7 linked regions of the Homo sapiens genome follow. The protein of the gene in region 1 purifies or fractionates together with the protein of each later gene. This does not show direct contact. Each region holds a gene or a part of one and is shown in the gene's direction. Other genes may lie near its edges. The genes, in order: OAS3, CNP, LLPH, NUDCD1, GNL3L, CAPRIN1 and GNL2.

Evidence for each region.
Region 2: the proteins of OAS3 (region 1) and CNP purify together in Homo sapiens (affinity purification with mass spectrometry, with the first as the bait; one large-scale study listed by BioGRID). This does not show direct contact.
Region 3: the proteins of OAS3 (region 1) and LLPH purify together in Homo sapiens (affinity purification with mass spectrometry; one large-scale study listed by BioGRID and IntAct). This does not show direct contact.
Region 4: the proteins of OAS3 (region 1) and NUDCD1 purify together in Homo sapiens (co-immunoprecipitation; one large-scale study listed by IntAct). This does not show direct contact.
Region 5: the proteins of OAS3 (region 1) and GNL3L purify together in Homo sapiens (affinity purification with mass spectrometry; one large-scale study listed by BioGRID and IntAct). This does not show direct contact.
Region 6: the proteins of OAS3 (region 1) and CAPRIN1 purify together in Homo sapiens (affinity purification with mass spectrometry; one large-scale study listed by BioGRID and IntAct). This does not show direct contact.
Region 7: the proteins of OAS3 (region 1) and GNL2 purify together in Homo sapiens (affinity purification with mass spectrometry; one large-scale study listed by BioGRID and IntAct). This does not show direct contact.

What each region holds. Positions count from the first base shown.
Region 1 is NC_000012.12:112,948,184-112,952,281, forward strand, and holds part of OAS3 (2'-5'-oligoadenylate synthase 3), read left to right. Parts: intron 1-677; coding exon 678-1,022; intron 1,023-2,509; coding exon 2,510-2,792; intron 2,793-4,098.
Region 2 is NC_000017.11:41,969,320-41,973,417, forward strand, and holds part of CNP (2',3'-cyclic-nucleotide 3'-phosphodiesterase), read left to right. Parts: intron 1-2,572; coding exon 2,573-2,712; intron 2,713-4,098. UniProt on the Homo sapiens protein: Catalyzes the formation of 2'-nucleotide products from 2',3'-cyclic substrates. May participate in RNA metabolism in the myelinating cell, CNP is the third most abundant protein in central nervous system myelin.
Region 3 is NC_000012.12:66,120,338-66,124,435, reverse strand, and holds part of LLPH (protein LLP homolog), read left to right. Parts: intron 1-417; coding exon 418-596; 3' UTR 597-4,098. UniProt on the Homo sapiens protein: In hippocampal neurons, regulates dendritic and spine growth and synaptic transmission.
Region 4 is NC_000008.11:109,240,121-109,244,053, reverse strand, and holds the end of NUDCD1 (nudC domain-containing protein 1), read left to right. Parts: intron 1-752; coding exon 753-1,045; 3' UTR 1,046-3,135; downstream 3,136-3,933.
Region 5 is NC_000023.11:54,543,453-54,547,550, forward strand, and holds part of GNL3L (guanine nucleotide-binding protein-like 3-like protein), read left to right. Parts: intron 1-770; coding exon 771-874; intron 875-4,098.
Region 6 is NC_000011.10:34,089,600-34,093,697, forward strand, and holds part of CAPRIN1 (caprin-1), read left to right. Parts: intron 1-579; coding exon 580-690; intron 691-929; coding exon 930-1,079; intron 1,080-2,306; coding exon 2,307-2,457; intron 2,458-4,098. UniProt on the Homo sapiens protein: mRNA-binding protein that acts as a regulator of mRNAs transport, translation and/or stability, and which is involved in neurogenesis, synaptic plasticity in neurons and cell proliferation and migration in multiple cell types.
Region 7 is NC_000001.11:37,585,574-37,589,671, reverse strand, and holds part of GNL2 (nucleolar GTP-binding protein 2), read left to right. Parts: intron 1-419; exon of another isoform or gene 420-712; intron 713-2,176; coding exon 2,177-2,361; intron 2,362-4,098. UniProt on the Homo sapiens protein: GTPase that associates with pre-60S ribosomal subunits in the nucleolus and is required for their nuclear export and maturation.

The sequences.
Region 1 (4,098 bases):
GGTGTGGAACAGGCTTTAAAAAGCAGGGGTGGCCAGGTGTGGTGGCTCACGCCTGTAATCTCAACACATTGGGAGGCCGAGGTGGGCAGATTACCTGAGGTCAGAGGTCAGGAGTTCGAGACCAGTCTGGACAATATGGTGAAACCTTGTCTCTACTAAAAATACGAAAATTAGCCAGGCATGGTGGTGGGTGCGTGTAATCTCAGCTACTCGAGAGGCTGAGGCAGGAGAATTGCTTGAACTAGGGAGGCGGAGGTTGCAATGAGCTGAGATCACTCCATTGCACTCCAGCCTGGGTGACAGAGTAAGACTCCGTCCCAAAAAAAAAAAAAAAAAAAATGCACAGGGCATCAGGCATGTAAAACAGTCTTATCACCAAGCTCAAGCTGAAACTGCCCGGGGGAAGGAGTCCTTTGTTTTTCTGCAGCTATGGTCTGGTTACCAGACCTTTCTGCCCATCACAAGGGCACCCATTTTGCAGTTTATCCCTCCAGAAAGGCACCTTTTTCAACTCTGCCCAAAGATGGCCATGTGCGTTAGCCATGGCCCTCCCACTTCCCCTCTCTGAGCCTCAGTCACCCTGACTGTACAAAGGGCGGGAGCTGGGGAGAGAAGGCATTGGGTTGATGCAGAAACCACTGCGCCTGGCTGAGGCAGCTCCTTCAATGACCTTCCAGGGCCTTCCACGTGCTGGATGCTCAGGTTTGGGCCACCCCATCCAGCTAGACCCTAACCAGAAGACCCCTGAAAACAGCAAGAGCCTCAATGCTGTGTACCCAAGAGCAGGGAGCAAACCTCCCTCATGCCCAGCTCCTGGCCCCACTGGGGCAGCCAGCATCGTCCCCTCTGTGCCGGGAATGGCCTTGGACCTGTCTCAGATCCCCACCAAGGAGCTGGACCGCTTCATCCAGGACCACCTGAAGCCGAGCCCCCAGTTCCAGGAGCAGGTGAAAAAGGCCATTGACATCATCTTGCGCTGCCTCCATGAGAACTGTGTTCACAAGGCCTCAAGAGTCAGTAAAGTGAGTTGGGCCAGTGGAGACACAGGGGGGACCCTATCGAGGGATCAGCGTGGGGAAGGGAAGGAGTTACAGCAATGGAGCTGAGGTTGGGCTGGGGAACTGGACGGCCCAGGAAGGATGATTTGCTGGCTTAAATAAAATATATTTAAGTGCCAGCTTAGATTTTCTTTTTTTTAATGATACAGTTTTTAAAACACTATTACAAGAATCAGATCACTTCCCTCCTCAGCTCAAAATTCTCCATGGTTTCACAGGGCGCAGAGGCCTCAAGTCCTACAGGATGGGCCCTGGTCTCCCTCTGGCCTTGACTTACTCCACACTGGCCTCCTGGCTGCTCTGAGCTTACCAGGTCCACAGAACAATTCAAGGCCTCTGTAGTGGCTGTTTTCTCTTCCTAGAAGAAAATGAGAATTCTCTTCCCCAACCATTTGGCTCTCTCTCTCTCGCTCTCTCTGTCTCTCCTCTTCAAGTTTCTTGATCTGATGTCCTCGTCCACTGAGGCCTGACCACACGATTTAAAATTGCAGTCTTGCCCGGGCACGGTGGCTCACGCCTGTAATCCTGGAACTTTGGGAGGCCAAGGTGGGCAGATCACCTGAGGTCAGGAGTTCAAGACCACCCTGGCCAACATGGTGAAACCCTGTCTCTACTGAAAATACAAAAATTAGCTGGGCATGGTGACGGGCCCCTGTAATCCCAGCTATGCAGGAGGCTGAGGCAGGAAAATCGCTTGAACCCGGGAGGCGGAGGTTGCAGTGAGCTGAGACCATGCCACTGCACTCCAGCCTGGGCGACAAGAGTGAAACTCCGTCTCAAAAATAAAAATAAATAAAAATAAAATTGCAGTCTTGCACTACCAGCCCCCTTTCTGTTCTGCACAGCACTTAGCATTTTCTCAGGACCTATTGTTTATTGATGGTCCCTTCCTTCCCTCCCCCAGCCAGCATGTAAGTTCCAGAAGAACAGAAATTTTGTATCCTCTCTTCTTCTTTCTTTCCTGCAACAAACATTTAGTGAGCACTTACATGTATCGGATATGTGTGATATCCCGTGTGAAGGAGGGAGGGAGGGAGGGAATTGATGGAAACAGGGCAACAGAGGACAATTGCAGGCCCTATTAGGGCTTGGGACCTCAATTTGCAACTGCTGGCCCAGATGTGCAGTCAGTAGATGCTGCAGATAGTAGGCTAAAATGTTTGGTCGCTGCCCCTACTTAATCCCACCTCCATTATCTGTTGCTGCAGTTTGGTCTGACTTAGCTCAGTCTTCATGGATCAGAGGGCAGGTGCAGGCAGATACAACTTGACTCTCTGTCACAATTCTAAGAGGTCACAGGACCCATGCAGTCGACCTTTGTCATAGTCCCCAGACCTGACATCAGCAAGAGGGCAGGTTCCAGGCTGTAGATGGGGCGCAGGTGATGGGATCGTAGTCCGACTCCCAGGCTCCTAGAGGGTCCCTGATCTGAGCTGTTCTTCCCTCCACAGGGGGGCTCATTTGGCCGGGGCACAGACCTAAGGGATGGCTGTGATGTTGAACTCATCATCTTCCTCAACTGCTTCACGGACTACAAGGACCAGGGGCCCCGCCGCGCAGAGATCCTTGATGAGATGCGAGCGCAGCTAGAATCCTGGTGGCAGGACCAGGTGCCCAGCCTGAGCCTTCAGTTTCCTGAGCAGAATGTGCCTGAGGCTCTGCAGTTCCAGCTGGTGTCCACAGCCCTGAAGAGCTGGACGGATGTTAGCCTGCTGCCTGCCTTCGATGCTGTGGGTGAGGGCGCCCAGCCTGTCCCTTGGAGAGTGATAGGGACCTCAGGCGCCCATCTAACAGGGGCACCTGCCATCCTCTTTGTGATCCTAATTCTCCTACTTGACCAAGCATTGAAAACTACTTTGAGATACTGAAAGTAATCATCACCATCAAATCTTACAACTATTTAGTGCTTTAACTTTACAAATATTTTAATTATGAAATGTTTCAAGCATACAGAAAACTACAGACGTCACACACCCATGTAGCCCAATTCAGATTTAACAAATGTTAACAGTAGGCATATCTGCTTGGTATTTTTTTAAAGAAATTTCTCATGTTATAATTTTCTTCCTTATTTTAAAGGGTTTACTTTATGGTTCATTTTTTTTTAACTTTCGGAGGTGAATCTTAGCTTAGTAATTATCAGTTTTAGTCAATGCAATTAAAGCTACCCATTTCCCTTTCAGTATCACATTAGCTACAGGGCAAATCTTTTGTTTGACATGCATAATTTTTATTATCATTCCGGTCTAAATATTTAGTACTTTTAATTATGACATTATTGTTTGTTCTTTCATCCATGAATATTTGGAAGTAGCTTTCCAAATGAATGTTTTGGAGATTTGTTTGCTTTCGGCATTTACTTATTATGTTTTTTAAAACTGTAGTCAGAAAACATACTTTATGTGATATCAATTCTTTGGAATTTGTTGGCATTTCTTAGATTGCCCATGGTTGAAAAGAATGCATGCTTTCCATCCAGGCATGGTGGATCACACCTGTAATCCCAGCATTTTGGAAGGCCAATGCGGGCAGGTCACTTGAGGTCAGGAGTTCGAGACCAGCCTGGCCACAGTGAAACCCCATCTCCACTAAAAATACAAAAAAAAAAAAAAAAAAAAAAAATAGCCTGGCATGGTGGCACGCACCTGTAATCCCAGCTACTCGGGAGACTGAGGCAGGAAAATCTCTTGAACCTGGGAGGCAGAGGTTGCAGTGAGCTGAGATTGCACCACTGCACTCCAGCCTGAGAGACAGAGTGAGACTCTATCTCATGCTTTCCATTGCTGAATGCAGACTTCTATATAGGTCCTTTAGATCTAGCTTATGACTTCTTGCTCGGATAATTTTTTGTTTGGTCTCTCAATTTCTGAGTAAAATATCTTAAAATCTCCTGCTCTGAATGGATATTTATCCCTTGTTCCTTGCAATTCTGTAAATTTTGTTTTTAATATTTTGAGGCTATGTTATTGGGAACATATAAGTGCATAATATTATATTTTATTGGATTGTTCTTTTATTATTAAGTAATAATCTTCATTTC
Region 2 (4,098 bases), on another chromosome or scaffold:
CAAAACCCGTTTTCAGATGGAAAAACATGGACCCAGGAGGGATGTGGGGTTTACGGGCTGGAACCCTGGACTCTGGCCACTCTAGCAGGGTTCTCTCTTGGCATGGGCTTTTTGCTCCAATGATAGGTTTGAGATAAAGAAGGGTCCTGGTGGCTCTCCTGGAGTGACCTGTTGGAGAAGTGCCACCCACTAATCCATCTATATGCCTTTAGGCCATTTCTGGTTGCCTCCAATTTTATTTATTTATTTATTGTGACACGGAGTCTCCCTCTGTTGCCCAGGCTGGAGTGCAGTGGCGCTATCTCAGCTCAGTGCAACCTCTGCCTCCCAGATTCAAGCAATTCTCCTGCCTCAGCCTCTCGAGTAGCTAGGACTACAGGTGTGCACCACCACGTCCAGCTAATTTTTGTATTTTTAGTAGAGACGGAGTTTCACAATGTTGGCCAGGCTGGTATTGAACTCCTGACCTCAGGTGATCCGCTTGCCTTGGCCTCCCAAAGTGCTGGGATTACAGGCGTGAGCCACCACCGCACCCAGCCACCCCCAATTTTAGATGATCTTCATGCCTGAAATAGCCCCACTCTGGTTTGTTGACATTGTGTATATTGCACAGAAGCAGGGAATTTGTGCCTGTATGGGTTCTCAGAGAGCTTTTTTCTCAGCTCCTAAACTTGAACTCTGCAGTGAACTGTGGTGCTTGCAGTGACATTGGCCAGGAGCAAGCCCTGTACCTGTGAGCTGGTGGCTCTGCCCTGGAGTGACTACTGCTCAAAGTTGCTTTTAATATTTATTTATGAGACGGAGTCTTGCTCTGTTGCCCAGGCTGGAGTGCAGTGGCATGATCTCGGCTCACTGCAACCTCCGCCTCCTGGGTTCAAGCCAATTCTCTGCCTCAGCTTCCCAAGTAGCTGGGAATACAGGCGCCTGCCACCATGCCCGGCTAATTTTTTTTTATTTTTGTATTTTTAGTAGAGACAGGGTTTCACCATCTTGACCAGGCTGGTCGGTAGCACAAAAGAAAGGAGGGGCCCTTGGCCCAAGATGGGACGAATCAAGCTTGACAGGATGATTGCCAGATCTTTTTTTTTTTTTTTTTTGAGACGGGGGTCTTGCTCTGTCGCCCAGGCTGGAGTGCAGTGGGGCAATTCGGCTTACTGCAACCTCCATCTCCCGGGTTCAAGCAATTCTCCTGCCTCAGCCACCCAAGTAGCTGGGATTACAGGCACCCGCCACCATACCTGGCTAATTTATAAATTTTTAGTAGAGACAGGGTTTCACCATGTTGGCCAGGCTGGTCTCAAACGCCCCGCCTCAATTTCCCAAATTGCCGGGATTACAGGTGCGAGCCACTATGCCCAGCCTATTTTATTTGTAAAGGAAAACTGGATTTTTCTGCCCAGGATTAGAGCAGGAGAAATGTAATGGGCCAGCAAGGCTGCTCTCAGGAGAGGCCTTCCTCCCCTGTGGAGGGCGAGACATCCTCATGGGGACTCAATTCAGAACATAACAGGAAAAAGCGAGTGACTCCAAAGACAGCCACAGGTGTGGAGTCTGGAAATCAAAATCACAGATACTCCACTCCTCTTTGTGTCTTCCAGCCCCATAATGTCACCCCATTATAGTCCAAGACCCTTCCTGTACCAGGAGGCCCCCCCATAGGCCTGCAAGGTGTGTATTAAACTGATGGTGACGTTGTGACTGCTTGTCCAGATGGGCCCCTGAGTGAAATGGGGCACTACTGATAGTTCCCTGGTGGTCCTGGGAACACTGGGGTATATGGTCACCCTAACTGTTGTGCTGGATTGATAGATAGGGTTGGTCACTTGCCCGAGGCCGATGGCTGGTACATGGCAGAGCTGAGATATTCACTGTGTTCTGGCTGTTTCCACCGTACCATGTTGTTCCCAGCCCTCTGTTTTCTTTCCACCCCACTTCCCATGACTTGCTTCCCCTTTGAGACGTGGTGCTAGTAAATCTTAGATTCCCTTGGCCTGTACTGCCTGCCTCTGTTACAAATGCCTTAGAGTTTGGAGAAGAGATGGAAAGATCTATACAATGTAAAGCCAGAGAATTTTAACTTTTTTTTTTTTTTTTTTGGAGACGGAGTCTTGCTCTGTTGCCTAGGCTGGAGTGCAGTGGCACTATCTCGGCTCGCTGTATCCTCTGCCTCCTGGGTTCAAGCAATTCTCTACCTCAGCCTCCCAAGTAGCTGGGATTACAGGCGCCCGCCACCACGCCTGGCTAATTTCTTTGTATTTTTAGTAGAGACGGGGTTTCACCATCTTGGCCAGGCTGGTCTTGAATTCCTGACCTTGTGATCCACCCACCTCGGCCTCCCAGAGTGCTGGGATTACAGGTGTGAACCACCGCACCTGGCCTGAGAATTTTAACTTTTTATTGCTCTAAAGTTGCCATTAGTTTGACCAACTAACCAATGAATGAGCTGTAGTGGGTTGCTGGAGAGGTGATGCTTAGTGTCCGAGTGTTTTGCGCTGGGCCTCGGTGGTCCTGGTGGCGGATGTTGGTATGCCCCTGCTCCCCTGCCCTGACTGCACCCGTTTTCTCCCGGCAGTCGTCCCTGGGGATGAGCCCAGGGAGAAGATGGACTTGGTCACCTACTTTGGAAAGAGACCCCCAGGCGTGCTGCATTGCACAACCAAGTTTTGTGACTACGGGAAGGCTCCCGGGGCAGAGGAGTACGCTCAACAAGATGTGAGTCTTCCCCAGGGACACATGGGGGAGGTGGGAGGTTGGGGGAGAAGGGGCTGCAGCATCTTCTGAAGATAGGTACCGGTGCCAGGCAGGGACCAAAAACCAGATGGCAGCTCAAGAAAAATGGCATCTCCTCCTCCTAGCTCCCCTGTCCCCAGGCGTAGCTGCATAGACCTCAGCCGCAGGTTCTAAGGAGCCTGCCCTGGCAGTACTGCCAGCCTGTGCATTCACCTGCCCCCAAGCACCTTCGCCTTCTGCAGATTCATGGAGAATGCTGGTCCACAGTGGGCTCCTGCTCTGGTCTCTCTGAGCCTGTTTTACCTTCCAAAGACTAGGAGTCCTTCGCCCCCAGGGAGCCTGGTGCACTGAGGTCCCCATCCCTGTCCCCAGGTCTGAGGTCTGGCCTGGCCCCAGAGTGAGGGAGTTTCATACGATAATGAAGCTTATTGGCTAATGGGTACGAGACCTTTCTGCACCACACAGCTGGCACCTTACACCCACAGCCACTGACAGTGATCCCTGAATGCCAGGCATGTCACCCATATCCACAGTCTCCAACTTCCAAGTGTCCACCCCCAAGCCCACTCTCCCACTTCTCTGCCTAGGTTAGCACAATCGTTTGTTTGTTCACTAGAGTGTCCTCCCAAATGGAAGCTCCCCTGAGGGCGAGTTTTTAAGTTTCGTTGACTCCTGTGGTTCCAGCACCCTAGCATAGTGGAATGAATATGTAACACCTGAGCTACCATCCCTAACCATGCCTTCATTTAGCATTTATTAACTACCCATTTCATGCCAGACACTGTTGGGACAAGGGATCGTGAGCAAAAATAGAAAAGCGTTTATGCTGAGATGGGATGGGCTGTCTCAAAGAATCAGATAGAAGCAGACATATCATCAGATGGGAACCAAAGTGTAAGAGCAGGTTTCCATCAAGGGCGAGTCTGACCTCAGTCTGACCTCACCCTGTCCTCCAGGGCGCTGTCTGGGTCCCAGGGGAAGCTGAGCGGTGCCAACAGTAGCAGCTGTTGTGTGCGCGGACACCCCTGTGGGCTGTTTACCTAGTCACTCTCATAACCACATTAACTCTGAGGTAGGCTCTGGTTCTCCCTGTTTTACGGGTGATGAAGCCAAGGCACCGAGAGGTCAGCCAGCCCGCTGAGGCCGGAAGCCAGTGTGCAGGGAGCTGGGCTCCCTCAGGAAGTCCGGCTGTCCCCGTGTGGCCCTGTCTGAGCGCCTTCGTGTTTCTCACTTGAGCCTGGAGCGCCTATGGAAGGTGCGTGCCGCAGTTGTTAGTGGATGCTGGGCCTATACCGACCCCTGCTCAGCTGTGCTCACTTCTGTTAGACTTCCCCTTCTCTCCTCCAGGAGGGACCCTCCCTGGGTCAG
Region 3 (4,098 bases), about 47 Mb from region 1:
TCGAGTTCATTAGAAGTTCGTTCTCAGTTCATTATAATTTAGTTCAAGTTCTTAAGAAATGGCCAGTCATTCCTAATCAGTTCATTACATCTAAGGTGTATCCCTTAGAAGTGTAGGTATGCTTACTGAACTCAAGGAATCACTTAATATGAGAAATGTTGTTGTAACTCACATGTGCTCAGAACCATATATCTACTAATGTACTAACTCAGAGCCATGCATCCTAAATGTTTCCTATTTAACATTACTATTCTAAGGAAGGACAGTCATGCCAACATTCTTTATAAAGTTTTTTTCTTCTCTATTTTCGGTCTACCTTCAGTTCTAATGTTCTGATGTTCTCAGTGCATTAATATGCTTTCACAGGGTGGTTTTTTTCATACATGGTGTTAATAGTTTTTCCATCTTTTTATGCAGATGACATGAAAATGGAGACTGATATTAAGAGAAACAAAAAGACTCTTCTAGACCAGCATGGACAGTACCCAATATGGATGAACCAAAGGCAAAGAAAAAGGCTGAAGGCAAAGCGAGAGAAAAGAAAGGGGAAAAGCAAAGCAAAAGCAGTGAAAGTGGCAAAGGGTTTGGCCTGGTAGACTCTTAAAACCTTGGAAAATGCCACATGGGATAGATGACGGATTAGAATGTATACACATGTATACTTTGATTTCAACTGCCACCAAATGAAAACCATTTGTTTTCCTATTTTAACTTGGCCTTTTTTCTTCAATTCAAACCCAGCATAACTCCTCAAGTTTGTTTTGGGAACTTGAATAAAATATTTTCTTTGATACATCCAAGCTCTACTGATACTTTAACTGGATGCTACCCAATATCCAGTTATAATCAGGCCTCAACGTTCTGTCAGGTATTAATATGGTTAGAATTGTTCTTACAACTGGTAATTATAGTCAATAGAGATAAAACAGATGATGTACTGACAAATTTTTGTGAACTTAGATTTTAAAGAAAGTTGTTGTATAATCATATCATTTAAAAATACTACATTAGGGCTGGGCATGGTGGCTCACACCTGTAATCCCAGCACTTTGGGAGGCCGAGGCAGGTGGATCACGAGGTCAGTTCGAGACTAGCCTGGCTAATACAGTGAAACCCCATCTCTACTAAAAATACAAAATTAGCCGGGCATGGGGGCGCGCACCTGTAGTTCCAGCTACTCGGGAGGCTGAGGCAGGATAATTGCTTGAACCCAGGAGATGGAGGTTGCAGTGAGCCAAGATTGCCCCACTGCACTCCACCCTGGGCAATGGAGTAGGACTCTGTCTCAAAAAAAAAAAAAATAATGGATCTTATAAAGTACTTGTGTGGAGCTTTGATTCCACAGAATAAAAGATATTTTGTGTGTAGATCTTCAAGTCTGATTTTTTTTTCTTTCATGTATGCTTAAGGTTTTTTAGTCCTAGAGAAGACCAGATTTCAATTAAATGTTTTCTTATCTTAATTTTAGGTAGAATATTAACATATACAAATCAGTATGCTTTTTAGGAAATTAGAACATTTCAGGTTTTTCATGGAAACTGATTTAATGTTCTTTAGTGTTAATATTGTGTGGCCTAATATAGTATCATGCAGCATTCCCCGGAGTGTGTTCTTCAGTATCAGTTTCCTCTGGATGCTTGGTTAAAAAAAATAAATTGTGTTCACATCGATTTGGGAAATGCTACATACTTGAAGATTTACAAAAGATTTTAGTTTAGGATTAGAATAGTCCTACAGGGTTCCAGCAGCAAAGAAACCTGTTTAGCGTCTACTCTTTGAAACTAGTTTTCTGAGAAATGATTTTTAGTTAAATCTGTCTTACTACAGTTTGCTAAATTCATTTTTATTTTACTTTTAGTTAAGCAATCTAAACTTAGCATTCCCTCTGAATTTCACTATAATCAGATTAACCATCTCATATGTTAACTGGAACAACCAAATACTTACTGAGTGCCTAGTATGTGGGCCAGGGACTTTCCAGATGCTTGGGACAGATTGAATAAGATAAGATTTCTGCTCTCATAGGGCTGAGAGCTGTGTATCTGTTTAGAAGAAGATGTTAACTTCCCAGGAGAACTCAAGTAAAATGTGAAATAGAATAAGGCCACTTGGTCATGAGGTCACAAACTTTGTGCCAGGCACACTGCTAAATTGGGGCACAATACATGGACATGTATTGTAATAAAGAGGACATGACCCAAATGTTTCAGAAAATTTAAGCTTATAAAATTTGATGCCAGTAAACTCTTGGAATTGTTTAAATATAGTAGACTTTTCTTATTTTTCTCAATAGTTTATTGAAAAGTTGGTAGATAACTTTAAATGCTTAAAATTTCTTAACAGCTAAGAAAGATATGAATTGAAAGATGTCATTCATGATCTTTGTTGCCTTTGGTGTAGGTATGAATAACACTAGCATTTGTGAGGGAAAAGTGAATATGTACATTTTTATTCATAAAATAAAAAAAATTGCAAACAACCAGTTAAGCCACTGACAATATCAGCCTAAATACAGTAGCTGAATTATTTATGTTTTTTTTTTTTTTTTTTTTGAGATGGGGTCTCACTCTGTCACCCAGGCTGGAGTGATTGGCACAAGTGTGGCTCCGCTGCAACCTCCACCTCCCAGGCTGAAGCGATTCTCCCACCTCAGCCTCCCCAGTAGCTGGGACTACAGGTGGGTGCCACCACGCCCAGCTAATTTTTGTATTTTTGTAGAGACAGGGTTTCGCCATGTTGCCCAGGCTGGTCTCAAACTCCTGGACTCAAGTAATCCACCTGCCCCAGCCTCCCAAAGTGGTGGGATTACATGCGTGAGCCACCACACCCGGCCTAATGTAGACATTTTTTATGATTTTTGGAAAAGGGGGCCAGGCACCAAATTCTAACAATTTGGGAGGCTGAGGCAGATGGATCACCTGAGGTCAGGAGTTTGAGACCAGCCTGACCAACATGGTGAAACCCTGTCTCTACTAAAAATACAAAGTTAGCTGGGCATGGTGGCAGGTGCCTGTAATCCCAGCTACTTGGGAGGCTGAGGAAGGAGAATCGCTTGAACCTGGGAGGCAGAGGTTGCAGTGAGTCAAGACCACACCATTGCACTCCAGCCTGAGCAAGAAGAGCGAAACTCCATCTCAAAAAAAAAAAAAAAAAAAGTCTACATTCGTGATATTACACAGTTGGCACTTATTTACATTTTGGCAGCATTGTCAGGTAGAGACCAATGCCAGGGTTATGTTCATGTTTTCTGTGGCTGATAACCTCTAATTTGATTCTGTTGATAGTAGCTTTGAGCTTTCATCCAGAGCCTCTCTGATGTTAGGATTTTCACTTCATTGTGTCCAGTCATGAAGTTTGTCCATTCAGGATTTAACTTGAAAGTTAACAAAATCAAAAATCAAAGCACCATTACCAGAAAACATATTTGGGAATCATGTTCTCAAGTGTCACATGGCCTCTGGAAAGGCGACTGCTGAAGAGAAGTTTACTGACACAGTGTTGTCAGTACCCTCTAAGGCACTGAGTTCCTGAACACTACCAGCAAGATTCTCCCCACCTCCAAATATTGGCAGGAAATTTAGACTAGCATTTCAAAATTAGTGCAGGGGTATGGTCACATCTTTGGCACTTTATTTTTAAAGATTACAAATCGAGAAGTATAGCATAGTCCTTTTATCTTTTAAATAATTAGCTTATTTTTTTGAAATTTGTCATCTTTTTGACTGACATTTTCCAGAGAATTGCTGTAAAGCCACAAGATGGAGCTCAAGCTAAGCACCAAATCATTTTGGAATTAGATTGAGTGAGCTAAATCACATTAGGAATTGAATGTAACACTTTTTGTGTTTTAAGAAATTAAGTCTGAAATCAAAATATAATTTAAAGATGATCAAAACTGCTTCAAGTATTAACTCATTTAATCTGCCCAGCAATCTCATGAGTTTGGTACTAATGTTATCTGAGTTTGGTACTAATGTAATCTCTGTTTACACATGGGGAAACTGAGGCACACAGGCCATACAACTAAAACTGAAATCTGGGATTCAAATTTAGGCAGTGTGGCTCTAGAGCCTATACTCTTACAATGCCATTCTGCCT
Region 4 (3,933 bases), on another chromosome or scaffold:
CTAACCATGTCACTATCTAAAAATCATAATTTATATTTTGGAATATAAATGTTGTTTTAATCCAAAAAGATACTTTTTAAACATGTACATGAATTAAGATAAGGATTTTTTTCAGTTTAGAGACTTGAAATTATTTTTGAAGTTATAGTGATCAACATTCTACTTGTGGGGGCTAAAAGTACAAAAAAATCCAGTTACAGTGTTGGTATTGATGTATAAAAATATCACTAACATTTTAGGGATAATAAGAGAATGCATCACGAATACTAGTACATTCAGGGATACATTATGAACAGAAAACTAAAATAACTTTATGATGGTATCCTATACACATTTTCCAATTTATTTAAGAGGAAAAAAATGGTTCTGTGATGCCCTATCCGTAACTCACGAAGCTAAATATTAAATTGGCACTTAAAGATATTTTGTCATGTATTGAGTGTTTTAGATTTTAGAATTTTAGTGTTCGAATTATTCGTGGAAATTAAATGAAGCTATATTACGCTTTTTTTGAAGCGAGAAAGCCATATCTGTTTTGTTCCTTAGGAATTAAAGTCGTATTTTTGTACCAGATGGGAGAGACTGATTGTGGCTAATCGTTAATGATTCAGAATTATATACCTTATGGTATATATTTTACTTGGGCATTTTAATTTGTAATAAACATTGCAAAATATTAAATGTTAAATCATCATTTTTCCCCTTCTGTTTAATATATAGTTTTTCTTTTGTTTGTCTCATATTCTTGGCAGGCTATGTCCAAGCATCAAAGAGAGACAAAAAATTTTTTGCCTGTGCTCCAAATTACTCGTATGCAGCCCTTTGTGAGTGCCTTCGTCGAGTATTCATCTATCGTCAGCCTGCTCCCATGTCCACTGTACTTTACAACAGAAAGGAAGGCAGGCAAGTAGGACAGGTTGCTAAGCAGCAAGTAGCAAGCCTAGAAACCAATGATCCTATTTTAGGATTTCAGGCAACAAATGAGAGATTATTTGTTCTTACTACCAAAAACCTCTTTTTAATAAAAGTAAATACAGAGAATTAATTATTCTAACATATTGGCCTCTTTGTACTGGAAAAGTATTCAGTGGTACCTGGAGGTCTGGACAGTTATACTGTAACCTCTTAAGTTTTAATGTGCTAAATATATCTTGTATGATTTTTTATTTTTTAATAACATTGGAAATATATTCAAGAGATTATGATTCTGTAAAGCTGTGGAATGAAGCTGCAGATTTAGAGAACATTGGCTTCTGAAAAAAAAAAAGAGTGAAGATAGTACTAGCAAGTATACTTATTTTTTAAAACAGGCTAGAATCTCATGTTTTATATGAAAGATGTACAATTCAGTGTTTAAAAATAAAAATATTTATTGTGTACTCTGTTCGTTGATTAGTTGCTACAGGCTGTACCTATAAGATGTACAGGATAATAGTTAAATGTTGAGTATTGTACATATGTATTTAAGTGGATTGAATAACTGAGTCTACATGGAGGAGGAAATGCTAGAGAACAGCAGGTCTAATATTTTTTAAGTTTACTGAGAGACCTTTATTATTATTTTCAAATTAAGTATAGCTTTATGTAACTTTTAGCCAGTTGCTCTGCCACAGACATAGACAAAGAGAGATAAGATTTCACATTATCCATCACTGCATAACAAACCACACCAAAACTCAGTGGTTTAAAACAAGGACTTTTATTATTTTTCACGATTCAGTGAGTTGGCTGTCTCTGCTGTACAGGGCCTCTCAGCCTCCAGTAGACTAGACGAATCTTCTTTCCATAGTAGAGAAAACATCTTAAGAGAGCAAGCTCCAATATGCAAGAGCTTATCGATCCTGTACATCTATCATATTTACTAATGTTCCATTGGACAAAGCAAATCACATGGCCAAGTCTAGAGTCAGAATGAGGGGACTACACAAGCTGACAGCGGATGGTATGACTCATTGGGGGCCATTGATGGAACAATCTTACCACACAAGGACAAATTATAATTTATCCTTGTGGCTCTCTTTATTTTTCTAACAACTTCAACAAAATAATCCTGTTTATATGTTATAGTTTCTTGCCACAAATTTTGTTTTTTCAAACTTACCTTTCCAGGTTTGTTTTAGTATGTATGTACCTGGAAATTTTTATTACTTTTTATACCATTTCAAGATATGTATCTTATATAAACCTCAAGTTGGATTTTATATTTTAATAAGGAAGTTAAGACCTTCATTTAAGAGGCAGAAGATTAAGATAAGAAATATAAGATAGAAAAGCTTTGTTCCTAACATATCTTTTGCCTGTCTGGGCAAGTATTTGACTCAACTAAATTTTAATGAACGAATGAATGACAGAGAGGAGGAAAAAAGATGAGGATTGCATACATGTTCTAAACCCTTTGTCAGATTGCAGTTTCCTAGAGAGTATTGAGGTGCTAGGTAGAAAGTTAGGAAAGGTCCTGAGGACTGGTATTGACAATTGGAGTCCTAATAGTACTCTATTCGTATTAGGAAAGAGAGACTAGATACCAAACATCACGAGATCATAGAGATGGAAAACTGTATAGTAACCAAAAACCAAAACAGTGATATTTCCAGAACTTTTTAGTATTGTTGTAAAACTTCATGAAACAAAAGACCATTTAAATAGTGAATTATTAAAAATCTTTATGATGGGAAAGTAGATCTAAATTTTCTCTAAAATTTTCCCCAAAGATAATATCCTCTTAGGGAACATAAGAAAAATGTATAATAAAAATGTGGTGCTTAATTAACCATGACTATGTATATATTGCCAATTTTAGTAATCAATATTCTTTGTGCATGTGATTTTTTTGCATGATTAATGTTGAATTGAAAGCTCTCAGGATAATTAATCCTAAATATTGTCGCATGTTGACCTACGTTAAAAGATGAATAGGTCTAGAGCCGTGATTTCAAGCTATTTTCCTGAAATGCTTCAGGGATTCCATAAACATTTAAACAATGTTCTAAGGTACATATACTTAGAACATTGAGATATATACTACAAGTGCTAAGAATATAGTACCTTGTATTTTTGTTGATTTTTATCATGTTTTAAATAGGAATTTATAAAATATTTATGATAGTAATAAAGTAGTATTTTATGTGTTTTGCATATTAAGAGTCATTAACAATATTCACTCTTTTAACACATTTAAGCATCAACTATGTACCTTAGCATGATTTTTTCAGTATTAAGGATAATATATTACTAAGGATAAAGAGACAATCTACATTTTAATGATTTTCAGATAAAATTTCTTTTTAGGGAAAAAAAGAGGAGAGGGTGGCATAGAGTGGTTGCTTTCCTGCTAAGGAAGTCTGACCAGGGCTAGAACCTTGGGGACTACCCACAAGAGTCAGGTAGAGGAGTTGCCAATGGGAAGAGTTAGAAAAAAGAATCAGAGTGTCAAGAAATTAGGAATGGTTAACAATGTTAAAAAAAATACTCTTAAATAAAGTATACTCATCAAATTTCTACATAAAAGGGAAATGACTGTACAGAACAAGTTAAACCATCATTACACAGGAATTTCTAATATTTTGTGTTATTAACTATAGAAAAGAACAGATGGTAAGTTTATGTGTGGCAAGTCATATAAGAAGGCAAAACTGATACTTATCACTGATTATTACTGGAAGAATATTCTAATTACTTCTTAGTAGTAAGTGTGTCTTACTGAACAAGTAATAATAGTTGAGTGGTAAAAAACAAAAGCCCAATGATGGAAGTATAGAAGTAATAAAGCAAAGAGAAGTAAGGCCTTCTAGAATTGGTAAGAAAGAATAAATGCACAAAAAGAGCCAAGGTAAAAGGTACCCAACTAGATATCAAGATACATCATGAAGCAGTAAAAAGAGTAGCATCATTGCATTAGTAAACAAAATAGACACACATTTAATCGTCCTATAC
Region 5 (4,098 bases), on another chromosome or scaffold:
TGCAAAGTAGAAATTTTTGTTCCGATTTTCAAAGCCTGTATCACAGAGTATGGTACAAGTTAGGTGTGGAATCCAAGCCTGTCTGCCTTTCAGTCCCCTGTTCTTGCCATTTTGAGCCTTCTCTGTTTTTGGACAACCCTGGAGAGTTCCTCCTCCCTCAACTCAAAGACTGGGGCAGAGGAGCACATGGGCTCAGGAGTCACTCATGTCTAGGGTTCAGCCTCCCACCTGTCCTGATTCTTTTCTCTGAGACACTGGATAAGTCATGCCACCTCCAAGAGCTCCTGTTTCTCTAGCTGTAAAATGGGCCATGGGTATCCCAACCTCACAGATTTGTTGTAAGAATTAATGATAAAATGCTTGGTACATGGTGGTCAGTACTTCACACATGATAGCCATTCTTTTTAGGGTTATCTTTGTCATTTGGCCCAACCTAGAATGATCCAGAGAGGGGATAGGAAACACAATATTTGGGGGGTCTCTGATGCTCCTGGCGCTGTTTTGGAAAGAGAACATTTGGGACCAGATAGCTAGTTTGTCCATTTTCCCTGAGGGAACAGAGGCCCCTTCAGGGAGGGCTAACGCATCCCGTAGACCAGACTATCCTTTCTAACTCCAACCTGCGGACTGGATGGGAATGACAGGGCCAGTTGAGAGACCTGTTGATGGTAGGTGGGCCTAGCTTTGGGTACGGGTGGAGGTGTCTTTGGAGGGAACCATGGAGGTGTTGTTCTGCTTACCAGCCCCATCTGTTCCTATATTTACCCCAGACCTGGTCCCCAAGGAGGTTGTGGAGAAATGGCTGGATTACCTTCGGAATGAGTTGCCAACCGTGGCTTTCAAGGCCAGTACCCAGCATCAGGTCAAAAACCTGGTAAGCCTGGGGCTAGGGTCATCTAGCCGCTTTCAGGGTAGTTTGGGGCCAGAGCTGGGAGGGTCGTGACTTGGACTGGGACCTCCAGCCCTTTAGTAATTGAACTGGGCCTTCAACTTTGAGCTTTTTGCTCCACCGAGTGACTTTTTTTTTTTTTTTTGAGATGGAGTTTCACTCTTATTGCCCAGGTTGGAATGCAATGGTGTGATCTCGGCTTACTGCAACCTCCACCTCCTGGGTTCAAATGATTCTCCTGCCTCAGCCTCCAAAGTAGCTGGGATTACATGCACGCGTCACCATGCCCTGCTAATTTTTGTAATTTTTTTATTTTTAGTAGAGATGGGTTTTGCCATGTTGACCAGGCTGGTCTCGAACTCCTGACTTCAGGTGATCCACCCACCTCGGCCTCCCAATGTGCTGGGATTATAGGCATAAGCCAACATGCCTGGCCAGTGACTTCTTAATATTAGTTTCACTTGACTTCTTCCTGTATTATCACTCTTCAGGAAGCATTTCTTTTTTTTCAGTTGTAAGGATAAAACATAATGTCTATAGGGAATTTGTAAAATACAGTTAACTACTTGTTTGTTTGTTTATTTATTTATTTGAGACAGAGTCTCACTCTGTTGCCCAGGCTGGAGTGCAATGGCATGATCTTGGCTTACTGCAACCGCTGCCCACCAAGTTCAAGCAATTCTCCTGCCTCAGCCTCCCAAGTAGCTGGGACTACAGGCATGTGCCACCATGCCTGGCTAATTTTTGTATTTTTAGTAGACACGGGGTTTCGCCGTGTTGGCCGGGCTGGTCTCAAGCTCCTGACCTCGGGTGATCCACCCGCCTTGGCCTCCCAAAGTGCTGGGATTACAGGCGTGAGCCACCACTCCCGGTCTAACTTTATTTTTTATTTTTTGAGACAGAGTCTCACTTTGTCACCCAGGCTAGAGTGCAGTGGCACCATCTCGGCTCACTGCAATCTCTGCTTCCTGGGTTCAAGTGATTCTTGTGCCTCAGCCTCTAGAGTAGCCAGGATTGTGGCTAAGTTTTGTGTTTTTTTTTTTTAGTAGAGATAGGGTTTCACCATGTTGGCCAGGCTGGTCTCGAACTCCTGACCTCAGGTGATCTACCAGCCTTGGCTTCCCAAAATGCTAGGATTATAGCTGTGAGCCACTGTGCACAACCAACTACTTGTTAACTTTAAAAAATACGTATACCTCCAATCATTTTTCTCTTTGAAACAAATCACAGTTCTTCCCAATTATATCATTAATAGAGAAATATGTATGGTTTGTAAAATATTAATACAGAAACTGATTGTTTCTGGGAGAAAAATTGGATACTAAGGGACATTTTTTTTCAATTTTGCATTGGATGTTAAACTTATTTAAAAATAAAGTAGAAAAAATAAAATTAACTACAGATAAAGCTTAAATACCCTTTCACCAGTCTCCCTAATTCTAGTCTCCTTTATTCATGCCCAGAGGTAACTACCATTGACAGTTTGGTGTGCATTCTTCCAGACTTTATTTATTTTAGATACAGATATTTAGGGTCTCAATTGGTCATCCAGGCCTCAGTGCAGTGGCGTGATGATAGCTCATTGCAGCCTCAAACTGCTGGGCTCAAGCCATCCTCCTGCCTCAGCCTCCTGAGTACCTTGGACTATAAGTGCATGCCACCATGCCAGGCTAATTTTTATCTTTTTTATTTTTGTAGAGATGGGGGGAGGGTCTTGCTTTGGTGCCCAGGCTGGTCTTGAACTCCTGGCCTCAAGTGACCCTCCCATCTCAGCCTTCCAAAGTGCGGAGATTACAGGCGTAAGCCACTGCACTCGGCCTTCTTCCAAATGTTATTCTGTGCTTTGGATATACATAGAAGTGTATATATAAAGAGGGAATACTGTTTGGAAGTATTATGTATATCATTCTGTGGCTTAGTTTTTTTTTTCTCTTGGACATCTTTCTATAGAGATGTGCCTTTTCGAGGCTGAATACAATTAGTTTCCAGTTTTTTATCGTTATAACCTGGGCTTCCACAAATACCCTTGTACATGTCTCCTTGGCACATGGGCAAGTGTGTGTTTGTAGGTGAGGTAGAGAAAGGGAGTGGCTGGGTCATAGCCTTTCTGCATTTTACCTTTACCTAGACACTGATGAATCACCCTCCGTGATGGCTGTACCAATTTATACTCCCACCAGTGGGGTAGATGAATGTGTGAGAGGCCTCTTTTCCTACACCCTTGGCAACATTTGATAGCATTAAACTTTTAAACCTTTCAGAAACATGATACCTTATTTACATTTTCTTGGCCTTTTTAAAATTTAAATTTAAATTTTTGTTGAGATGGAGTTTCACTCTTGTTGCCCAGGCCGGAGTGGGATGGCACGATCTCGGCTCACTGCAACTTCTGCCTCCTGGGTTCAAGTGATTCTCCTCCCTCAGCCTCCCGAGTAGCTGGGATGACAGGCATGTGCTACCACGTCTGGCTAATTTTGTATTTTTAGTAGAGACAGGGTTTCACCATGTTGGTCAGGCTGGTCTTGAACTCCTGACCTCAAGTGATCCACCTGCTTTAGCTTCCCAAAGTACTGGGATTACAGGTTTGAGCCACCGTGCCCAGCTTCTTGGCCTTTTTGATGGCAAAAATAGAAGCCGCCTTTTCTTTCTTTTTTTTTTCTTTTTTTTTTTTTTGAGATGACGTCTCACTCTATCTCCCAGGCTGGGGTGCACTGGTGCAATCTTGGGTCACTGCAACCTCTGCCTCCCGGGTTCAAGTGATTCTTCTGCCCCAGCCTCCCGAGTAGCTGGGATTACAGGTGCGTGCCACCACACCCAGCTAATTTTTGTATTTTTAGTAGAGACGTGGTTTTGCCACGTTGGCCAGGCTGGTCTTAAACTCGTGACCTCAAGTGATCCGCCTGCCTTGGCCTCCCAAAGTGCTGGATTACAGGAATGAGCCACAGCACCCGGCCAGAAGCCACCTTTTCTAACAGCTGTATTTCATTTGTATTCCACTTTAAGGCTACAGCTTTTTAACCTGTTTCTTATTGATGGATATATAGGCTAATTCCAATTTTGTGATATTGGAAACAATGCTGTGGCTGGGCGTGGTGGCTCATGCCCGTAATCCCAGCACTTTGGGAGGCCAAGGTGGGCAGATTGCTTGATGCCAGGAGTTTGAGACCAGCCTGACCAACATGGCGAAACTCTGTCTTTACTAAAAATAC
Region 6 (4,098 bases), on another chromosome or scaffold:
CTATTTTAAAAAAATAATTAAAAAATATTTTTTCACTTTTGTTTTAATTGGTTCCTTGGTTTCTTTCTTAGCTTATGAAAGAAAATAAGAATTTCATCAGTGTCCAAGTCTTCTGTTGGAATTCAGCAAATTTATTGTTGTGGATAGCTGTCAGCCTTTATTTTTATGTTTAGGTTCATTTTTCCTCTTGATGACTTTTTAAGTTTTTCTTAAGTCTTGCATTTTAAATAATGTATTATAATATAATAAGCCTTTTTTATTTAGAACTGAGAATTTCAGAAGACATAGTTTAGACATAATTCTAAAATTTAGTGCAGATTTCTCCATCTTAGAAGTACTTGTGGAGGGCTTTTATAACGAGACTTGGGTTTATTTAACGTCGAGCTTCAAAAATATATATATTTTTGCAATTTTTAGGTTTTATATTATACAAATTTAAAGAGAGATGGTAATATTAATTTCTCCCTTCTTTAGCAGTTGTATCTATTTCTTAGCCTTATGCGTCTTAGAGGTAACTTGTTTTTTTAACAGTCAATTTTGTAAGCAGGAAGAAGCTTTTATTTCTTTACTTATGTCTAGGTTCCTTTGGTATCATCCACAAGTGAGGGGTACACAGCATCTCAACCCTTGTACCAGCCTTCTCATGCTACAGAGCAACGACCACAGAAGGAACCAATTGATCAGATTCAGGCAAGTTCTGTTACCGGGTCACATACATTTGATGAGGCACTTACTCATGAATTGAACAGATGTACATTACCATTAATATAATGATTCTTCTTTTTGGACCTACTTTGCTTTCATGAAATATTTGAGTTTGTTAATACATATAAGTTTGAGATTAATTTACCACTTTAGTACATCTGTTCACTTTTTGTTTGGCTAAGTTTAGTTTACCGCTAAAGTGCATCTATTCACTTTGTGTTTAGGCAACAATCTCTTTAAATACAGACCAGACTACAGCATCATCATCCCTTCCTGCTGCGTCTCAGCCTCAAGTATTTCAGGCTGGGACAAGCAAACCTTTACATAGCAGTGGAATCAATGTAAATGCAGCTCCATTCCAATCCATGCAAACGGTAAGCAAATTAACTAACATTAATTGCCTAGTATGTAATATGAATCATGGTAGATTTTCTTTTCTTTTTTAAAGGTCTTCATTTAACTGTGCTTGAGTCTGCATCTTTCATTAACTGTAGGGTATATTTAATTGAACATAAACTGATTATTCCAGAGATTAACTGATACTAACGGATATTCTAGAGATAAATTTTAGCCTTATGAGTGATGTGCCTGTATCATCTTAATTTGTAGTTTTACCCTTTTGATTTGATTAACAAAAGCTTAAACATTCAGAGAAATAGACTAATATAACATCCATATAATCATTACCTAGATTTAATAGTTGCCCTGTTTGCTTAATCTTTTATTTTACTGAAGTATTTTGAAGTTTCAGATGTTATGCTTTACCTTGATTCTTGAGCAAGCACCTTTAGAGAATTTCTAGAAAATAATAATAATACTATAATCTGTGGGGTGCAGCTAAATCGGTGCTGAGAGGAAAGTTCATAAGATTAAATATTAAAATAACTTTTGATTAATATGTTAATAAAAATGAAAAAACATTCAACCCTGTTAAAGTTCATAGAACAAACTTCTGTAAGTGGTACTGCATCCAGGAGTTTGTCTTATTTATTTATTTTTTGAGACAAAGTCTTGCTCCGTCGCCCAGGCTGGAGTGTAGTGGCGTGATCTCAGCTCACTGCAATATCCGCCTCCTGGGTTCAAGCGATTCTCATGCCTCAGCCTTTGGAGTAGCTGACACTCCAGGCATAAGCCACCATGCCCAGCTAATTTTTGTATTTTTAGTAGAGACGGGGTTTCACCATGTTGGCCAGGCTGGTCTTGAACTTTTGGCTTCAGATGATCTGCCTGCCTCAGCCTCCCAAAGTGCTGGGATTACAGGTGTGAGCCACTGTGCCAGGCCAGAGTTTGTCTTTTAAAAAGATTTCTCATATATGTAAAAGCATTTCCAAGGCTGCTGATTGCATGTCTTTTTATTTTTTTTAATTCCCTACTTCCATTTCACAGCATATTATACTCCCCTTTAAGTACTATATGGTATATATGTCTTTTTCCACATTGAATCACTTGGAGGGATTTTTGTATGTGTGTGTGATGTTTTTGTGTTTGAGACCTCTGTGATGTCTTTATTTATGTCTGAGGTAAAACCACCATTGAGTTTGGCCATGTTATAAACCAGAGAATAAAAGGATGAACTAATCATTTACTTTATTTACTAACAGGTGTTCAATATGAATGCCCCAGTTCCTCCTGTTAATGAACCAGAAACTTTAAAACAGCAAAATCAGTACCAGGCCAGTTATAACCAGAGCTTTTCTAGTCAGCCTCACCAAGTAGAACAAACAGAGCTTCAGCAAGAACAGCTTCAAACAGGTACGAAATCCAGTGTCACCTCATTGGCTCCTTGCTTTCCAGCACAGTTATTGACAGTGTTAGGACAGTTTAGACTTCAGAGTGGTGGTGTCCAAGAGTTTCTGTTTTAGTAGCAGACCATATGAATTTTTCATTTCAGATCATGAGTTAAATTGAGTCTGTACTTGTATATGTGAATTATGTGCAATTTTTGGAGGCTTTATAGCCATTTTCCTTTTGTCACTGAACTTACATAATATCCCTGTTGCATTGTATAATTTATATGGAATTAAATTTGTTACTTGAATTACCATAAAGTGTACTTTTTTTTTTTTTTTTGAGATGGGGTCTCACTCTGTCACCCAGGCTGGAGCGCAGTGCCGTGATCTCGGCTTACTGCAACCTCTGCCTCCTGGACACAAGCAATCCTCCCTACCTCAGCCTCCCAAGTAGCTTGGGAATACACGCATGTGCCACCACGTCCAGCTAATTTTTTGTATTTTTGGTAAAGTTGGGGTTTCACCATGTTGCCCAGGCTTGTCTTGAACTTCTGAGCTCACGTGATCTGCCCACCTCAGCCTCCCAAAGTGCTGGAATTAAAGGCGTGAGCCATTGCACCTGGTGATAAACTATACTTTTAATTGTTAATTGATTGAAGGCTTTTAGCATGATATCTGGCATTGAGTCAGTTAGACAAAGTTAAGAAAAAACTCATGGTGGCTGCATTTCGTGGACTGGGTTGAAACATAATCTATTTTGTCAAGTAAGGTCATAATTTGGCTAGTTACCATACCTGTCACGATAGTAATGTAGGTAGGGACGCTTTTATGTATTTGAGACAGGTTCTCACTTTGTTGCCCGGGCTGGAGTGCAGTGATGCCAGCATAACTCACTGCAGCCTCAAACTCCTGGGCTCAATGATCCTCCTCCCTCAGCCTCCTGAGTAGTTGGTAGTTGGGACTACAGGTGCTTACCGCCATGGCTGGCTAATTTTTTTTTTTTTTTTGTAGAGATAGGGTCTCCAGGAGCTCACTATGATGCCAGGCTGATCTCCAACTCCTTGCCTTGAGCGAACTTATTGTCTCTGTCTCCCAGAGTGGTGGGATTATGGGCATGAACTACCTTGTCTAGCTCGATAGAGATACTTTAGATTTTTTTTTATATATATATTTTTTTAAGAAATGGGGTCTCTGTCTGTTGCCCAGGTTGGAGTGCAGTGGTGTAATCAGATACTGGAGCCTTTAACTCTGGGGCTCAAATCCTGTACTGGAGCCTTTAACTCCCCACAAGTAGCTTGGACTGCAGGCTTTTCTCAAACTCAGGGCCTCCAGCAGTCCTCCCACCTCTACCTTATAGGCATGAGCCACCATGATGTCTTCTTTAGTTCTTTAATTCCTCAGAATTTAATTGGAATCCCACAACAAACCAGCAGTCAGAGGAGTTAATACTTTCATTTTGTCAGCCCGATTTTGAAAAGTTGTAAAATTTTCTAATTATTCAATTTCTTGGTAAACTTGGATCAGCATTAGATTTTTCAGTAGTAAATTCTTACACATCCTGTAGTATTCAGTATCACTAATATGAAGCTCGAATCTTCCATACTCTGATAGAAGTTATCAGTTATACTATGCTCAGCTTCCAAATGATAAAAACTAGTGGTGT
Region 7 (4,098 bases), on another chromosome or scaffold:
TAAGCTTCAGTTCCAGTATGAGGAGGGGAGAAAAACATTGACATGCATACGTGGGTTAAATAGTTCAGGCTGGGCGCGGTGGCTCACGCCTGAATCCCAGCACTTTGGGAAGCCAAGGCGGGTGGATCACAAGGTCAGGAGATTGAGACCATCCTGGCTAACACGTGAAATCCCGTCTCTACTAAAAATACAAAAAAAAATTAGCCGGGCGTGGTGGCGGGCACCTGTAGTCCCAGCTACTCAGGAGGCTGAGGCAGGAGAATGATATGAACCCGGGAGGCAGAGCTTGCAGTGAGCCGAGATTGCGCCACTGCGTGCCAGCCCAGGCGACAGAGCAAGACTCCGTCTCAAATAAATAAATAAAAATAAAATAGTTCAAAGAAAACTGTTTACTTGCAGAACAAAATAAAAACCAAGGCCTGGTTATTGCCTCAGGTTTTGTCAGTTATGTTTTGTTTTATGATGCACTAGAAGAATGGCACCTATTAGTAGAATGACTGTTTTCTTTCAGGGGAACACATGAGTGTAATTCATGAACCACAGACAAGTTGCTCATTTCCCTTGTTCTCTTTGTCTGTTCTCCCTAAAGCCATCTTTTAAGCAACTATTGAATCCTGTTTATGAGAAGAACAGAGAGGTTCTGTGATGGATTTATTGCTTCGTTGCCTGTACTTGTTGTCAGTGCTTCTAAAATTCAGTGTTTAAATATCTGGTATGTAGAATGAAGGGTCTGCAGTTGCACCAGTCAGCTTCTTTGTTGATGCAGAAAGCTGCTCAGAGTAATTGATGAGTTTTCTGCTTTGGCCTTGAAAAACCTTAACTATTTTATTTTAGTGTAATATCTATTACTTATAAAATCTAATTCTGAGATTATTTTGCACAGTGGAGTTAGATCAGATACGCATATTCATCTATATGTGTTTTAGAACTACTGTATTTCTGTAGCAATACAGTAAGAGTACTGTAACTTTGCATATGTGCTTTATATACTGTATATTACTGTGTTATACTTACTAATGTGTGTTATACTTACTAATGTGTAGGTTTATAGACATAAAGCCTTGGGTACTGTAACTTACAGGTTAAGAGATTTTGAAGGATAATTTTGGTCACACTTGATTTTACCCAGTGACATTAGACCCTATTTCCCATGTAAAATGAGCTGCTTCTGTTTGGAGATGCTCCCGAGTGGAACGTAGTGACTAAAACTAAACTGAGTTGTGGGTTAGGGCATCTGAGAAAATGATAATAGTTTAAGGATCTTTAGAAGTTGGAAGAGGGGATCTGTTAAAGTTCAGAAACCACAGGGGCTGCTGCATCATCCTCACAGCTTTTGGTAGTGGTGCTTACGGAGGAGCTTGTACTAGGGGGAAAAGGGTGATTTTTTTTTTTTTAATTGTCTGCAGGCTGTTAACATTCCGTTATGTGATAGATCCCAACTCTTTTATCTTGCTTCAGAAATTCCTATGCCTGTAACTCCTTTACAGGCACATCAAGTTCTAGTTAGTATCAGGTTCCTTTTATCACATCTAAACTATTATTTTGGACTTTTGCTAGATGTTTTTCATCCGAAGACTTGCCATGTGCATTTAATAAAAACGTTACCTAAATTAGGGAAAATGTTATCTGAAACTAAAATGCATCTTACAAAACAAGCAATTCCTTTTAGCCATGAAAGAAATTAACTTCCAAGAAAAAGTTGGCATTTACAGTTGGTTTAAAAAAAACTCACAAATTTGAGTATGATTGTCCTTGACAAAATCTATGAATTTGGCGAATTTTATGCTCTTGTTTGAAAGCTATAAAAAATGGTGGAAAAGATTAATTTTCACCACTGTAGCCTTAATTACATTTGACTGAAATTTATGATAAATGAAATAAAGCAGAGTTTTTGGCAAGTTTTTGTACAACTATTCATATTTACTTTGATTATTTGTATTACTTTTGTATTTCTCCAAGGAAGCTTACAGAACTTCAGAATAAGGGAACCAGTGTTTGTGCCATTTCAACAAGTAATTCTGATTTGAAACCAGACTGAAACCATGTCTTACAGATTTGGGTATGGGTTGAACCTTGGAAAAATAAAATCAGAAAGTCTTTCCTAGGTGGGTGTTGAGCTTTTTGCTTTTTCTCAGTGCTTTTCTTAGTTTTACCTGTTATTCTCCTTTCTCTTCAGAACTTGAAGGTGCACATTCTTGATACTGAAAGTTTTGAAACTACATTTGGCCCTAAGTCACAGAGGAAACGACCAAACTTATTTGCAAGTGATATGCAGTCTCTTATCGAAAATGCTGAAATGTCCACTGAGAGCTATGACCAGGGCAAGGATCGTGATTTGGTAACTGAAGACACTGGTGTGAGGTACATTTTTTTTTTTGCTTCTTTGTTTTTGTTTTTTTTTTTTTGAGATGGAGTCTTGCTTTGTCGCCCAGGCTGGAATGCAGTGGTGCGATCTTGGCCCACTGCAACCTCCGCTTCCCAGGTTCAAGCAATTCTCCTGCCTCAGCCTTTTGAGTAGCTGGGACTACAGGTGGATGCCTCCATGCCTGGCTAATTTTTTGTATTTTAGTAGAGACAAGGTTTCACCGTGTTGCCCAGGCTAGTCTTGAACTCGTGAGCTCAGGCAATCCACACTCCTTGGCCTCCCAAAATGCTAGGATTACAGGTGTGAGCCACTGCACCCGGTCGAGGTACAGTTTTGAAGTTCATGCAAATCTCATCATTTGCTCTTCTGCAACAAAACATTTTCTTTCAACTTATTTTGCCTGTGTGAAGCTCAGTGCTTTAACTCATATATGGAGTTATCTTCTTCCCTCAGACTGGAGACGTTGGTGAAATTGGGGCTAGACTGAAGATGTCTAAGGTGGCTTGATTGACAAAGGTCTCTCCTCATCCCCAAAATAAATAACATTTTTTCATTTATAATAGTAATACACCAGTCATAGACAAATTAGGAAATATAGTTAAGTTGGAAAATACAACAAAAAGAACATAACTCATGATCCCATTGCTGATATTAAGCATTGTTAATGCCTCTGTGAATATCGGGGCTTCCTTAACTGGAGGTCTCTGAGTTAATGGATGGCCTGTAAGGTTTCTTTGACTCTTTGAAGAAAATGTGGAAAATTTGTGAGCTTACATAAAGGCAGTAGGGTTTTGTGTTTTTTGTTTTTGTTTTGGGGAGGAGGAGGAGGAGAGGAAGTATCTATAATTTTAATCATATTCTCGTAGGGATCCATACTCAAAAGGAGAATCAGTCACCGGCTGGCTGCAGTGGCTTACCTGTAATACTAGTTTTTTGGGAGGCTGAGGCAGGAAGATCGCTTGAGCACAGGAGTTTGAGACCAGCCTGGGCAACATAGTGAGACCTTGTCTCTACAAAAAATAAAAAATTGGCTGGGCATAGAGTCCCAGCTACTCAGAAGGCTGAGGTGGGAGGATCACTGGAGCCCAGGAATTTGAGGCTGCAGTAAGCTGTGATTATTAGGAATATATTTCTATGTCAGTACATAATCAACAATAATATAATATTTATTGTCAGAGTAGTATTTTGTTTGTTATGGCCAGTCTCATTGTTGGACATTTATACTGTGTATAGTTTTTCCTTATGGTGAACAACACAAGGATGAAGCATCAATGTGACCGCATCTTTTTCATCCTTAATTATTCCCCAAAGATAAGTTCTTACGGAGCAAAGCATGATATCAAAAGGTATGCATGCTTTTTGATAGGCAGCTGCCACATTGCTCTTGAGAAAGGGTTTAATTTCATTTCCCTTGGGCAGTGCTAGAAAGCTCTCATTCTCGTCCATCTCATGTCTCTTAAATGAAGTGGAGGTTTTGCTGTCTTAGTGAAGAGGCATTGTCCTTTGACTGCATCAGTGTTATTACCTCATTGCTATTGTCAGCCCATCTTCAAGCATTGGGCCACCTAGAGATAAAATGTCAAGCCATTTGAGGCCAAGCAAAAAGAGGCAGTGAGTTCATTTATTTGTTCTTAGAATTATTTGAACTTTCGTTGGCTTTGTATTCTGCCGATTTGAATTTTTCCTTCCGCAACAGGTATAGTAGGTAATGCAGTAAAGACAAAACTATTTTT